2 linked regions of the Homo sapiens genome follow. The protein of the gene in region 1 interacts with the protein of each later gene in a pairwise test. Each region holds a gene or a part of one and is shown in the gene's direction. Other genes may lie near its edges.

Evidence for each region. Proteins that work in one complex are often made in the same cells at the same time.
Region 2: the proteins of EEF1G (region 1) and PLGRKT interact in binary tests that used the Homo sapiens proteins (3 or more experiments, as listed by UniProt).

The regions. Positions count from the first base shown.
Region 1 is NC_000011.10:62,563,881-62,570,900, reverse strand, and holds part of EEF1G (elongation factor 1-gamma), read left to right. Parts: intron 1-3,372; coding exon 3,373-3,502; intron 3,503-3,829; exon of another isoform or gene 3,830-3,890; coding exon 3,891-4,095; intron 4,096-7,020. UniProt on the Homo sapiens protein: Probably plays a role in anchoring the complex to other cellular components.
Region 2 is NC_000009.12:5,434,919-5,442,072, reverse strand, and holds the start of PLGRKT (plasminogen receptor (KT)), read left to right. Parts: upstream 1-4,147; 5' UTR 4,148-4,284; exon of another isoform or gene 4,285-4,441; intron 4,442-5,378; 5' UTR 5,379-5,504; intron 5,505-7,154. UniProt on the Homo sapiens protein: Receptor for plasminogen. Regulates urokinase plasminogen activator-dependent and stimulates tissue-type plasminogen activator-dependent cell surface plasminogen activation.

The DNA.
Region 1 (7,020 bases):
ATCTAGGTTACCCTGTATTCTGCTGAGGACTTGGAAAACAGCTAGAGGTGGGTGCAGTGGCTCATGCCTGTAATCCGAGCACACTGGGGGGCCGAGGTAGGCAGATCACCTGAGGTCAGGAGTTTGAGACCAGCCTGGCCAACATGGTAAAACCCTGTCTCTACTAAAAATACAAAAAATTAGCCAGGTGTGGTGGCGCACACCTATAGCCCCAGCTACTTGGGAGGCTGAGGCACAAGAATCACTTGAATCTGGGAGGTGGAGGTTGCAGTGAGCAGCGATCGCCCCACTGCACTCCAGCCTGGGTGAGAGTGAGACTTCGTGTCAAAACAAACAAAAAACAGCCAGGAATCCCAGGACTGAGTACCATCACTTGCTTTCCATTCTCTTAAGAAGCTGGGTAATGTCTTGCCTTTAGTTTCTGTTTGGCAGCTAAGATGTTTAGTTTGTTGCCATATTTCCTGGGAAGATTGGTTATTCTTAGTTGTGAAGACAGAGGTGATGATGGTAGCTTCAGCATTAAGATCTTTTTGGAGGCAGGCCAGGCACTGTGTCTAACACCTATAATCCCAGCACTTTGGGAGGCCTAGGCGGGTGGATCACTTGAGGTCAGGAGTTCGAGACCATCCTGGCCAGCATGGCGAAACCCTGTCTCTATTAAAAATACGAAAATTAGCCGGGCGTGGTGGTAGGAGCCTGTAATCCCAGCTACTTGGGAGGCTGAGGCAGGAGAATGGCTTGAACCCAGGAGGTGGAGGTAGCAGTGAGCCAAGATCCAGCTACTGTGCTCCAGCCTGGGGGACAAGAGCGAGACTCCATCTCAAAAAAAAAAAAAAAGCTCTTTAAGCTCTTTTGGAGACAGATACAGGTTCAAGCCTTGGCTTCATTGTTTACCAATGTAGGTAAGGGGTTATATGCGGGTGAATTCCTTTAGTCCTGTTTTTTACTCTTTGCAATCTATAAAATCAGGGTAGTAATAATCACTGTCAAGGTTATTGGGTCAAAAAAGAATGACAAGTCACTGGTTTCCAAATAAAAGCTCTTGGACTGATGCTGGTCCAGAATAGTAATGTGATCATAGCAAAAGAAAAAACACTTACTGCATGCCAGACCCTGTGCCAGGGGCCTCATGGGGATCATCTTAGTGAGTGAATCTACTAAGTGGTAGAGTAGAATTTGAACCCAAGTACTGTGGAACCAGCACTCTGACTGCTGTGTTCTGTTTCCATGACAAGATTTTTTTTCCTCTTCTGGTCTTTGCAAACTAAAAAATGACAACAGTTCTACCTGAAGCTTTGCAAACTGAAAACTGACAACAGTTCTACCTGAAGCTGTTTATTCTTATTTTTCTTTGACCATGCTTAATACACCAGACACTAAGTTTAATTTGAAGGACTGTCCATTATTTATTTATTTATGTATTTATTTTGACAGAGTCTTGCTCTGTCACCCAGGCTGGAGTGCAGTGGCACGATCTTGGCTCATTGCAACCTCCACCTCCCAGGTTCAAGCGATTCTCCTGCCTCAGCCTCCCAAGTAGCTGGGATTACAGGCATGCGCCACCAAACCCGTCTAATTTTGTATTTTTAGCAGAGATGGGGTTTTGCCATGTTGGTCAGACTGGTCTTGATCTCCTGAGGACCTCAGGTGATCCACCCGCCTCGGCCTCCCAAGTGCTGGGATTGCGGGGGTGAGCCACCACACCCAGCCAGGACTGTCCATTATTCTAAATGCGTTTGAATATTTTCTTTGAATGTTCTTTACTTTCTGAAGTTTGATGGATGGGTGGGTGTGGGGGGTGTGTGTGTGTGTGTGCGTGTGTGTATAGTATGGCCAATATAGATAGTAAATACCTATAGTGTTTAGATTTTATTTGGCAAAAAAGTCCTCGATAGCCCTCTGTGGGTCTCAATCTTTTTTTTTTTTTGAGACGAAGTCTCGCTCTTGTCCCCCAGGCTGGAGTGCGATGGCGCGATCTCGGCTCACTGCAACTTCTGCCTCCCGGGTTCAAGTGATTCTCTTGCCTCAGCCTCCTGAGTAGCTGGGATTACGGGCATGTGCAACCATGCCTGGCTGATTTTTGTATTTTTAGGAGAGGCGGGGTTTCACCATGTTTGCCAGGCTGGTCTCGAACTCCTGACCTCAGGTTATCTGCCCGCCTCGGCCTCCCAAAGTGCTGGGATTATAGGCGTGAGCCACCGCTCCTGGCCGACGTTTGAAATTTAAAAGATTGGAAACAGTAGATCTGAAATAGTTTTGTAAAGGAGCAAGACAATTATTACTCCTACTCCTAAATGGAGGATGGACCCAAGCATCCATCCATTAAACTGGACTACACTGAAAAAAAAGATTAGAAAAAGAAATGGAGGCCAGGTGTGGTGGCTCACGGGTAATCCCAGCACTTTAGGAGGCCAGGGCAGGAGGATTGCTTGAGCATGCGAGTTCAAGATAAGCCTGGGCAACATAGTGAGACCCCATCTCTATTAAAATTTTTTTTTTTTTTTTTTTTTTTTGAGACAGAGTCTCACTCTGTCACCCAAGCTGGAGTGCAGTGGCGTGATCTCGGTTCACTGCAACCTCCACCTCCTGGGTTTAAGTGAGTCTCCTGCCTCAGCCTCTGGAGTAGCTGGGACTACAGGCACGTGCCACCACGCCCAGCTAATTTTTTTTTTTTTGAGACAGAGTCACTCTGTCACCCAGGCTGGAATGCAGTGCCGCGATCTCCGCTCACTGCAAGCTCCGCCTCCCGGGTTCACGCCATTCTCCTGCCTTAGCGTCCCGAGTAGCTGGGACTACAGCTGCCCGCCATCACGCCCAGCTAATTTTTTTATTTTTAGGAGAGATGGGGGTTCACCGTGTTAGCCAGGATGGTCTCGATCTCCTGACCTCGTGATCCGCCCGCCTCGGAGATCCCAGCAGTTTGGGAGGCCGAGGTGGGCGGATCACTTGAGGTCAGAGTTCGAGAACAGCCTGGCCAACAGGGCGAAACCCCATCTCTACTAAAAGTACAAAAATTAGCTGGGTGTGGTGGCAGGCACCTGTAGTCCCAGCTACTCAGAAGGCTAAGGCATGGGAGGCTGAGGCACGAGAATCACTTGAACCCAGGAGATGGAGGCTGCAGTGAGCTGAGATCACGCCATTGCACCCCAGCCTGAGCGATAGAGTGAGACTCTGTCTCAAAAAAAAAAAAAATTGAAAAAAATGAAGAAATGGGAAGTAATCCAGGGAAGGATGATGTTGTATGAAGCTATTGTCTATAGGGTTTGAAAAGAAGGTGAGCACTGGGACTTAGGTAGAGCAAGGACTCTTGCTGTGAACAGAACTCTTCAGGGCCTTTCCACTGACTTTGTTTACACCCTTATGTCCTGGCAGGTTCTAGAGCCTTCTTTCCGCCAGGCCTTTCCCAATACCAACCGCTGGTTCCTCACCTGCATTAACCAGCCCCAGTTCCGGGCTGTCTTGGGCGAAGTGAAACTGTGTGAGAAGATGGCCCAGTTTGATGGTGAGTCTGAGGAGACTGGGAGGCATATGGCCAGGATCAGGGTCTGGTTTGCTCTGCATCAACCCCTTGATTTCCTGTCTTGCTTTTGGGTTATGGGGACCTGCAGAATGTAGGGTGTCAATGTGGTAGCTAATATTATGTGCAGTTTCGTGTACACTCATACCCTGACTAATTTGTATTACTATATAGATTTGCGATATAAAGTATTTGTTGCTGAGTGTGTTGTTGCTGGAGGACACACAGTGAACTGATGAGCAGTCTGGGGCCTAAGTTCCTTACTTGTCCCATTCGTCAGTTTCCTCTGTTACCTTGCTTGCTCTGTGTGGTTTTGGAGGGGTGTGGAAAGAGGCAGAACATTCGTTCACTTTCCTGCCTTCCTCTGCACCAGCTAAAAAGTTTGCAGAGACCCAACCTAAAAAGGACACACCACGGAAAGAGAAGGGTTCACGGGAAGAGAAGCAGAAGCCCCAGGCTGAGCGGAAGGAGGAGAAAAAGGCGGCTGCCCCTGCTCCTGAGGAGGAGATGGATGAATGTGAGCAGGCGCTGGCTGCTGAGCCCAAGGCCAAGGACCCCTTCGCTCACCTGCCCAAGAGGTAAGGATATTGGAGGGTGGAGGGTGTGGGACCAAAGAAGGCCTGTTCTCACCTCTGTATGTCCCCCCTCACACACAGCTAGAGCCAGAATTTTAGGTTGTCCATATAAAGTTAAAGGTATATTTTAGTTGCAAATAAAGCAGCTTTCTGGCTGATAATCAGGAATTGGGCAAATTTTGATTGTGGAGAGCAAGTTTCAAGTACAGCCAGTACTGGGGAAGATTGAACTCCTATTCCAACAAAGACAGGAACAGATTTTGATATAGTGGTAAGTTGGTTTTGAGCAAGCTCATTTGACCATTTGAGAGCTCTGAGAACAAATACAGGGAGAGGCGTGGGGAGGAAGAAAGTGCAGAGAGCCTTGCGGTGCGCCACGCGCCCGGCTGTGCGGAGATAGTGGATGCCAGAGCAGGGTCCTTTGAATTGTTTTGTTTTCTGTTTTGCTGAATCAGACTGTACAAAAATTGCTCACTAAGAAAAAGGATGAAGATCATAGCTAAGTAGTGTCTGTCTAGTTCATTGTTCCACAACCGAGTAAAGTCCCCAAGTAGAAGAAAGTAGGTGTCCTCTGTATCCCTTTTTCAGTTAAAGGTAGGGCTTCTTGGAAGAAATAATATAGTAAAAACGAGATTTTTGGCATGAAAAATGTAGGACGCTGAGTGCTTGCCCAGTTCTCTGGGATGGAGTCTTTCTTCCATCACTGCTCCAAGTCATTTTATTGGGAGTTCAAGCAGTTTGAGAAATATATATTCTGTGGTCACTTTGCTTTGGAACTCCTCTTTCTCTGTACTTTTTCCTCCCACTCACCCTGTCATTTCCAAAGCCGTTCATCTTTTTACTGCTTGGTCTGCTAGGGTTTACATTTCACCCTCTCCCATCTTGTAATGGCTTGGATACCGGGTGAACCAGCCTAAAGGAGCACCCACTGGTAGGGACACAGTAGCTGTGCATAGAATTGTGAATTACAAGCATTGCACTAATAGATGGGAGCAACTTGGGGTATAGCTGAAAGTTCTTACTCCCGGGTATTTTGTACAAGACCAGGAAGGCTCCATCCAGACACAGGCACTCTTTAAAGATGTATTTTTTGAACTAGTGATTTGCCTTGAATTTAGCACAGGTGCAGGTCAAGAGTGAGCAGGATTTTTGGTGTGTGTAAATAGGTCATGATAATTAACCCAAATTACATATTGTGTTGTAACTCAGACGTTGTTAATTATTAGCTAGAGATTTTCACATATAGTAGGTCAGTACTCTGGGCAGGAAATAAATGAGGCAGTAGTAAACTTAAAATCTTTATTTAATAAACTTTACATTTTCTTAACATGGTTTTGGGAATGTTTATTAATGTCTATTTATTGGGTTACCATGATGCCCTACAGGGCTGCCAGAAATGCTTTCCCCAAGGTTTTTTTTTTTGGAAACAGGGTTTTACTTTGTTGTCCAATCTGGAGTGCAGTAGCGTGATCACGGCTCACTGCAGTCTTGACCTCCTGTACTCAAGCGATCCTCCCACCTCAGCCTCTGGAGTAGCTGGGACAAAGGCACACACCACCACACCCAGCTAATTTTTTATTATTTGTAGAGACTAGGTCTCACTATGTTGCCCAGGCTGGTCACAAACTCCTGGGCTCAAGTGATCCTTGGCCTCTCAAAGTGCTGGAATTACAGGTGTGAGCCACTGTACCTGGCTCCTTTTTGTGTTTTTTGTTTTTTTTTGGTTTGTTTGTTTGGAGACAGAGTCTCACTCTGTCACCCAGGCTGGAGTGCAGTGGTGTGATCTCAGCTCACTGCAACCTCCGCCTCCCCAGTTCAAGCGATTCTCCTGCCTCAGCCTCCCGAGTAGCTGGGACTACAATGACAGGCGCGTGACACCACGGCTGGCAAATTTTTTGTATTTTTAGTAGAGACGGAGTTTCACCGTGTTAGCTAGGATGGTCTCAATCTCTTGACCTCGTGATCCGCCCACCTTGGCCTCTCAAAGTGGTGGGATTACAGGTGTGAGCTACCGTGCCTGGCCCCCTTTTTTTTTTTTTTTTTTTTTTTTGAGATGGAGTCTGGCTCTGTCGCCCAGGCTGGGATGTAGTGGTGCAATCTTGGCTCACTGCAACCTCCACCTGCCGGGTTCAAGCAGTTCTGCTTCAGCCTCTTGAGTAGCTGGGACTACAGGCACGCACCACCATGCCCAGCTAATTTTTTGTATTTTTAGCAGAGACAGGGTTTCACCATGCTGGGCAGGCTGGTCTCGAACTCCTGACCTCGTGATCCGCCCGTCTCCGCCTCCCAAAGTGCTGGGATTACAGATATGAGCCACTGCTCCCGGCCTTTTTTTTTTTTTTTGTGAGACAGAGTCTCACTCTGTTGCCCAGGTTGAAGTGCAGTGGTGTGATCTCGGCTTACTGCAGTCTCCGCCTCCTGGGTTGAAGCAATTCTCCTGCCTCAGCCTCCCGAGTAGCTGGGGATTGCAGGTGCGTGCCACCATGCCTGGCTAATTTTTGTATTTTTAGTAGAGATGGGGTTTCACCATGTTGGTCAGGCTGGTCTCAAACTCCTGACCTCAGGCAATCCGCCTGCCTTGGCCTCCCAAAATGCTGGGATTACAGGCGTGAGCCACCGCCCCTGGCTCCCCCAACATTTTTAATGTCATAAAAGTGATATCCTAAAAGACCAAGACTATTAATGTCCAGATTTTAATTCTAGTTCTTTTAAGACCCAGCTAGGTCAACTGCAGTGGCTCATACTACTTGGCAGGCTGAGGTGAGAGGGTCACTTGAGTCCAGCAGGTTGAGGCTGCAGTGAGCCATGATCGTGCCCCTGCACTTGGGTGACTGAGCAAGACCCTGTCTCAAAACAAATAGCTTGAACAGTTCAGGAGGGTGTGAAAAAATTCCCAGCCCCAGTTTTGGTGTGGTTGAGGTTTTAAGG
Region 2 (7,154 bases), on another chromosome or scaffold:
TATACACACATGTATATACGTGTGTATATACACACGTATATACGTGTGTATATACACACATGTATATACACACATGTATATACGTGTGTATATACACACGTATATACGTGTATATATACACACATGTATATACGTGTATATATACACATATGTATATATGCGTATACACACATGTATGTATATATACACATACATACGTACATATACATATACATACATATGTATATATACACATATGTATATATATATGTATACACACATATGTATATATACATATATATACTGAGAAATATCCAGCAATGGAAGTTGTTACATACACACTTATTGAAAATCCTTTAGCTGTTAAAAATGGTAAATATAAATGCAATGTAGCAACATAAAAATCCTTATGTTATAATGCAAGATGATATAAAACACATATTTATATATATGCATAAAAATGTACACATATATATTCACAAATTCATACAACTGAAAATAATTCACATACCAGTTAAAGTTATATGCCATTTGATTCTGAAATAAATTTCCTTTAACCCTCTTACTCCACATTTTATAAAATGTGTCCAATATCTATACCAAGACTTTTTTTTTCAATTTCCTGGGCATATTTTTCTATGGTCACTTTTTTCACTTATGTTTTAAAATTATGAAAAACATCATACATACAAGAAAATTTATAATGTGTGTTTTCGGTTTAACATGTATCCATCAGGAATCAGAATTTTACTCAGTTGGTTTGATTAAAGAGATATTAGTGAAGACACTACTTAAAGGAGTATGACTAAGAGAACCATCCAGTTGAGTCATCCAGAGTCTAGCAACAGCAGGAAGACTGCGCTCTCTCTAGGCTACATAGCAAAGGAGAAAAGTGTTTCCAGAGCCCATGGAGCTGGAGCCATGGAGAAGGGACTGCTTGCCAAGAGCTGCAATTGTGGAGAAACACAACCACCACCAGATACTCAGCCCCAAACAGAGAAAGAACAGAGAAAATATACCCTGATGTCTTTTTCCTCCTGCCTCCCATCTCCCTGAATGCCTCCCGCTGTCCAAACTCAAATGGAAACCAGCTGAGGAGAGCCCAGGTGGTGCCGTCCAAAGAGGTCAGCTTTGGGGTATAGAACAGGGCAGGGAAGTGAGGAGAATGAATATGATGGAAGGCAAACAGAAAACCTAGACAGTCTAATTGTTTTGTCACCCAGAATTTATTCTTTTCCTTTGCTCAGATGAAGAGCAGCTCATCCCTTACATATGAGAATGACAGAGTCTGACAAGATTTCTCCTCGACCAAACTTTAGTCAGGCTCCTCTAAGCCATCTCCTTGATTAGATATTGACCTTGGGCTGCAGTGTTCATCCTTGCAGAATCAGTGTTGGCAAGAATCCTGCTAAGTCAGTTTAGAGAGGATCTTCCCACCCTGAATGTTTGACCACTCTCAATATCTGATCAAATTCCTTACCCCCACCAGCCCCCAGGTGATGTCTGCTTACCCTGGCCTACCTTTAGCAAGAATCCTGTTAGGTCAGTTTAGCAAGGATTTCCCCTACCCTTGCTGTCTCTTCTTAGTAATTTTCCATCCACGGACCCCACCCCCATCCACACAACCTGCTCCTCGGCTATAAATCCCCACTTATCCTTACTGTATTCAGAATTGAGCCCAGTTCTTTACCAAGGTCTCTTTCCCCCTATTTCAAAAGTTGCTGAATAAAAATCTATTTTTACTGCTACAGCTATTGTCCAGCTTTGATTTTCCTTAACAAGCCTCATCAGCTGCCATATTGCCTTGAGGGGATGTCAGTTCAGGCACATTCTCACCCAGAAACTAAATTGTAATATTTATCTCCACCACTACTCTTTATGCAGGGTAATAGGAAAAGAGAGTCAGGGAAGAAGTAATTAACATTTTAAATGGAGAGCTACTATAATTCCTGCCTCTAGAGCTTGTTGCAAGGCTAAAATTAATAATCATAGCTTCCTACTCATTTACTTATGTATGTTTCCCCTGCCCTATGCCAACACCTAGGTAGATCAGGATTTTTTTATCTGGTATGCTTCAACACTTTAATTTCTTCATGATCTGAAATTTCTGCATTACTTCAGTTATCTGATAATCATTATTATGGCACACGGCAGTATTAAGAAGTGCCCAGTGAATCTCCAGGTGTCATGCATAGTTCTTCTTGCCCTCAATATATAGATGTAACCCAATTTCCTTTTGGTATTTGGGATGAATCATACCATTCTGTCACTGTGAGGAATCAAAGTGACCAGAGGGCAGTTTCAGCTTTCGAATCAATGAATTGAAATTCAATTCAATTCAGTGACGGGGTCTTCTAGTGGCAGCATTCCTTCCTTTGGATCTAGGCTTCCAAACACAATAAACCCAAGGTTGTAGAAATGGTGTGCTGGAATACTATGCAGCCATAAAAAATGATGAGTTCATGTCCTTTGTAGGGACGTGGATGAAGCTGGAAACCATCATTCTCAGCAAACTATCGCAAGGACAAAAAACCAAACACCGCATGTTCTCACTCATAGGTGGGAATTGAACAATGAGAACACTTGGACACAGGAAGGGGGACATCACACACCGGGGCCTGTTGTGGGGTGGGGGGAGGGGGGAGGGATAGCATTAGGAGATACACCTAATGTAAATGACAACTTAATGGGTGCAACACACCAACACGGCACATGTATACATAGGTAACAAACCTGCACGTTGTGCACATGTACCCTAGAGCTTAAAGTGTAAAAACAAACAAAAAAAAGAAATGGTGTGCTGGATATTTTCTATTTCTCCCTCCAGGCATTGTGCCTAGTAGGCTGACCTCTACAGACTACACAGACCTAGCTCCACTGTCTTCTGGCTTCCTGGTGGATCCAGCCAGCGGAAGACCCCAGCTGGATATCAGAGCTGGGAGAACAGAGAGGTGGGTCTTCTCCACTCTGTCCCTGCTTTGGGCTGACGTCTCAGCACTGGCTACAACTATAGAATCTCACCTTACTTGGTGAAAAGTTGGCATTGCTTGCTTTCCTCTACTGAACGACACGGTTCCAGTTGGTTACTCTCTCGTACAGCCACAGCTACCGCTCTCGCTCTCGCCTGGTTTTAGTAACTGCTTCCTTCCCCCACCCCTCAGCCCTATAGTTACTAACAGCTCCCCGCTGTTACTGGTTACTACTGGTTACGGAAGGCGAACTATGTGCCCGACACTGTGCTAAATGCCCACATATATTATCTTTTAGTCCTCACAATCCAATAAATTAGATGGCTTTAGTCCTGTTGCAGAGGTGATAAATTCAGAGTGACAGTGACAGAGCTAGAAATTGAAGGTAGGTGTGTTTATGCTAGAGTCTGTGCACTCAAACACGATTCCTTACTTCTTGCATCAGTTGTTAACCTCCCTTCAAGAGTGTCAAACCTCCTGGTAACCCGCCCATTCCCTTAACTGGAAATGAGGGTGCTGTTGCAATTTTCTCATCCAGCCATTCCACAAATGGTATCTGGAATGTGGGACCCACAGTCCAGAATCCTGAGGGCTGCTGTTGAGAGCATCAAGACGCGCCCAGGAGGTCAGGGCGGTGTGCACTCACACGCTGAGCCTGGAGAAAGTTAGACGCCTTCTCCACCGCTGTGGTGGTTAGCAGGGACTTTCCTGAAGGCCAGAGACTGGTGACGTTCATGCTATTTTTCCAAGCCATTTGGTAGCAAAGAACAGAGTGCCAACAATTCAAGCATTCTCTCAGGCTGGGAGAGAGACGTGGCTTATTCAAGATAGAAATTGCTGGTGAGGTTGAGGCGAGACCGACATCTCTCTGAGCAGCAGGGGAGAAAGACGGCTCTGTTCAAAAAAGAATGGGTAATTTCAGTCAATTCTCTTCTTTCTCGTTTCTGTCTTATCTTTATGACTTTTTAATAGTGCCAATTTAACAGATGAGGGGACAGAGGCCTTTAATTGAGAATTCCACTCCGCTTCCTCTGCCTCATCTCAAAAATCTGGCAGCTGAGTCGCCGCGGCTTTGAATTTGCCTCTTTTGACCTTCCCCTCCCACCTCTGGTAACACTGAGCCTGGCCCGGAAGGACACACCCGGCTTCTGGCGGAAGTGCCGGCTCTTTAAAGAAGCTGAGGGCTGCGCGAATTGGCTGAGGTGCGTCATCTACTGTGTCTGGGCGCCAATCCCGACGCTGGGCGGAGCGAGGCCCGGTCCCTGCAGCGGGCGAAAGGAGCCCGGGCCTGGAGGTTTGCGTACCGGTCGCCTGGTCCCGGCACCAGCGCCGCCCAGTGAGTGAACACCGGCCGCAGGCGGGTGGGGAGAAGGGTCAGCCCGGCCATGTCAGTCAGCGCGATCTCCTGGGCTCCGGGCTTGCCAGGCAGCGCTGGGCGCCCGCTCCTCGTGAGCGCCGGCTCTTGGCTCTCGCACTGCCCCTGGTGCTGATAGGTATTGCCAACTTCGTTCCATTAGAGCGCGTTCTTGTCGCCTGGCGTGGACTCCGGATCTCTCCGTAGCTTTAAAATAGAGTTGAGAAAAACAGGCACAGTGCTCTCAACAGAAATCAGCACACTATTGCGGGGAATACCTAAATTACAGTAACTGGCCTCAGGGAGCAAGGGCGGTGTTAATTACAGAAAACCTCCGGAAGCTGTGGGCTCTGGGCTGGAATTTGCAAGGGGATGTGGCTTAATTTCAATGGGATGCAAATATTGAAAATGACTGTGGTGAGACGATCAGTCATACATTCAGGCAATGTGTCATCTGATCGGGAAATAAGTCAGCGTGGTAATCCCGATGACAGAATTCATGCAATTAATTTTTTATGTCCCCCCAAGTAAAATCAAATCTAGGTACTCACGGGTGACCGGAAGAAAGGTTGTCTGGAACTTGCAGGCACCACTTCTCCTCCCCAGAAATACACCTTCCCATAGTAATCTATAGCTCACCTGAGGCAGGGCTGAAGCATTAAAGACCCCTTCCAAGATCTCAGAAGGAATCAAAGGGAAAATGAAGACAGAGGGATTGAAATCAGCATTCTCTGCAAAACATCACTCTGAGACACAGTGATGTTTAAAATTGTATAAGTAGCAAGACATTTTTTTTTACCCCTGGTGAAAAGTGTTAGAATTTTTAAAAGACTTAACTTATACAAGTGAGTGAAATCAAAGTTATCCCTATTGCAAGGTCAATTTTGCTTATTTTCTGATACATATTTTGTGAGCAAGAGGAGATAGCTGAAAGTGTTCTGGACACCCTACGGAATATTCCCAGACTTTGGGAAATGACTTTGCCAGGAATGGGGAAGTTGGGAAAGGAAAGAATGTTGAAAATACTGAACTCCAGGGTGAAATTTACAAGGTGTGATGCATTTATTTATTCTCAGGTGTGGTTTCCCATAAGGAAGCTCTTCTTCCTGCTTGGCTTCCACCTTTAACCCTTCCACCTGGGAGCGTCCTCTAACACATTCAGACTACAAGTCCAGACCCAGGAGAGCAAGGCCCAGAAAGAGGTAAATCTAAATACTAACTTCCCAGACAGTGTTTCTTTCCCAGATGATTGACATGAGGACTCTCTCTTTTCAGGGGAGATCCTAACCCCTTACAAACAGGAGCACTTGAAAGCACACAGCTCTGTGATATACAGGGTATGTGGAGGAATAGTACTAGAGTACAGTTGTTTTCTTTATAAATGTTTGCAGCAGGTGTAAAAATTTAGTCATCCACTCCTATGTTCAGAAGAAAAATAAGTAATGGCAAGTGGCCTGAGCCACAGTTTTTCTTGTATCTCTCATGCTTTGTGCAAATATTTAGGGGAAGTAGACACCATGGAGACTATCAAGATGGATAATATCTCGCTCCTAACCTCAGGCAGGTTCTGGTCTGCTGTTAGAGATGAGTCGCATGGGACTGTTAGGGTTTGGAGAAAGGAAAGAACTGCCAAATCACCCTGCTGTCAGTGAGTGGCCTCTAACTCTGGTCACAGGGTGCTCGAGTGGCACAGTGGCAGAAGGGGAGGGAAATCTCACCACCTCAGGCCTTTTCAGCATTGTGCCTCTTCATCCTGGTAAGTGGTTTGGTATCCTGTGCTCAGCTTTGAAGCTGACTCTGGCACAGAGCCCTGAAACTCCAGGTGTATCCTTGATCAGAATACAAGGAAGTCACTGAAGTCTTGCTTGCAGCTCCCACTCACCTGGAACCCCATTAGCTGGGCTTCCCACAGAATACTTGGGAATCCTGGCTGTAATGAATTAAGACTGGCCATTCTTACCTGAGGTTCACAACCCTACTCAACAGCCTATTAAAGAGAAAAGGTATCAGCAACATTGTTGAGAAGGGTAGAGCAGTTGTAACTTTCCCCTGAGTTTTGCAGTATTCTGAAATGCAACCAACTAACTCAAGGTCTTCTGTACCCACCCAGTTGGATTAAGAATAAAAATTGGAGTTCTGTCCCTTGTAGAGTTGACAGCCCACTTAAAAACTTACATAAGATAGACACTACTGTGCATTCATCTAAAAAGTACATTTTCCAGGACATTCAAGTATCTGTATGTTTTTCCATTTTTGAGAACTTTAGTACATGCTATCTTGGAGAGAATGAGAGTGAAGCTGGAGGAGGATGGCTAAGGCAGTTAGCAGTGGGTGGATGGAAATAAGGGGCATGTAGGAGAGGGACAGGGATTGTGGTGGGATGACAGGAAGAATAACTGGTCTACTGACCTTGAGACAGCTCAATCTTCTTCTTTTTTTTTTTTTTTTTAGTATTTATTGATCATTCTTGGGTGTTTCTTAGAGAGGGGGATGTGGCAGGGTCATAGGATAATAGTGGAGAGAAGGTCAGCAGATAAACACAAGAACAAAGGTCTCTGGTTTTCCTAGGCAGAGGTCCCTGCGGCCTTTGGCCCTGTTTGTGTCCCTGGGTACTTGAGATTAGGGAGTGGTGGTGACTCTTAACGAGCATGCTGTCTTCAAGCATCTGTTTAACAAAGCACATCTTGCACCACCCTTAATCCATTTAACCCTGAGTTGACACAGCACATGTTTCAGAGAGCAGGGGGTTGGGGGTAAGGTTATAGATTAACAGCATCCCAAGGCAGAAGAATTTTTCTTAGTACAGAACAAAATGGAGTCTCCTATGTCTACTTCTTTCTACACAGACACAG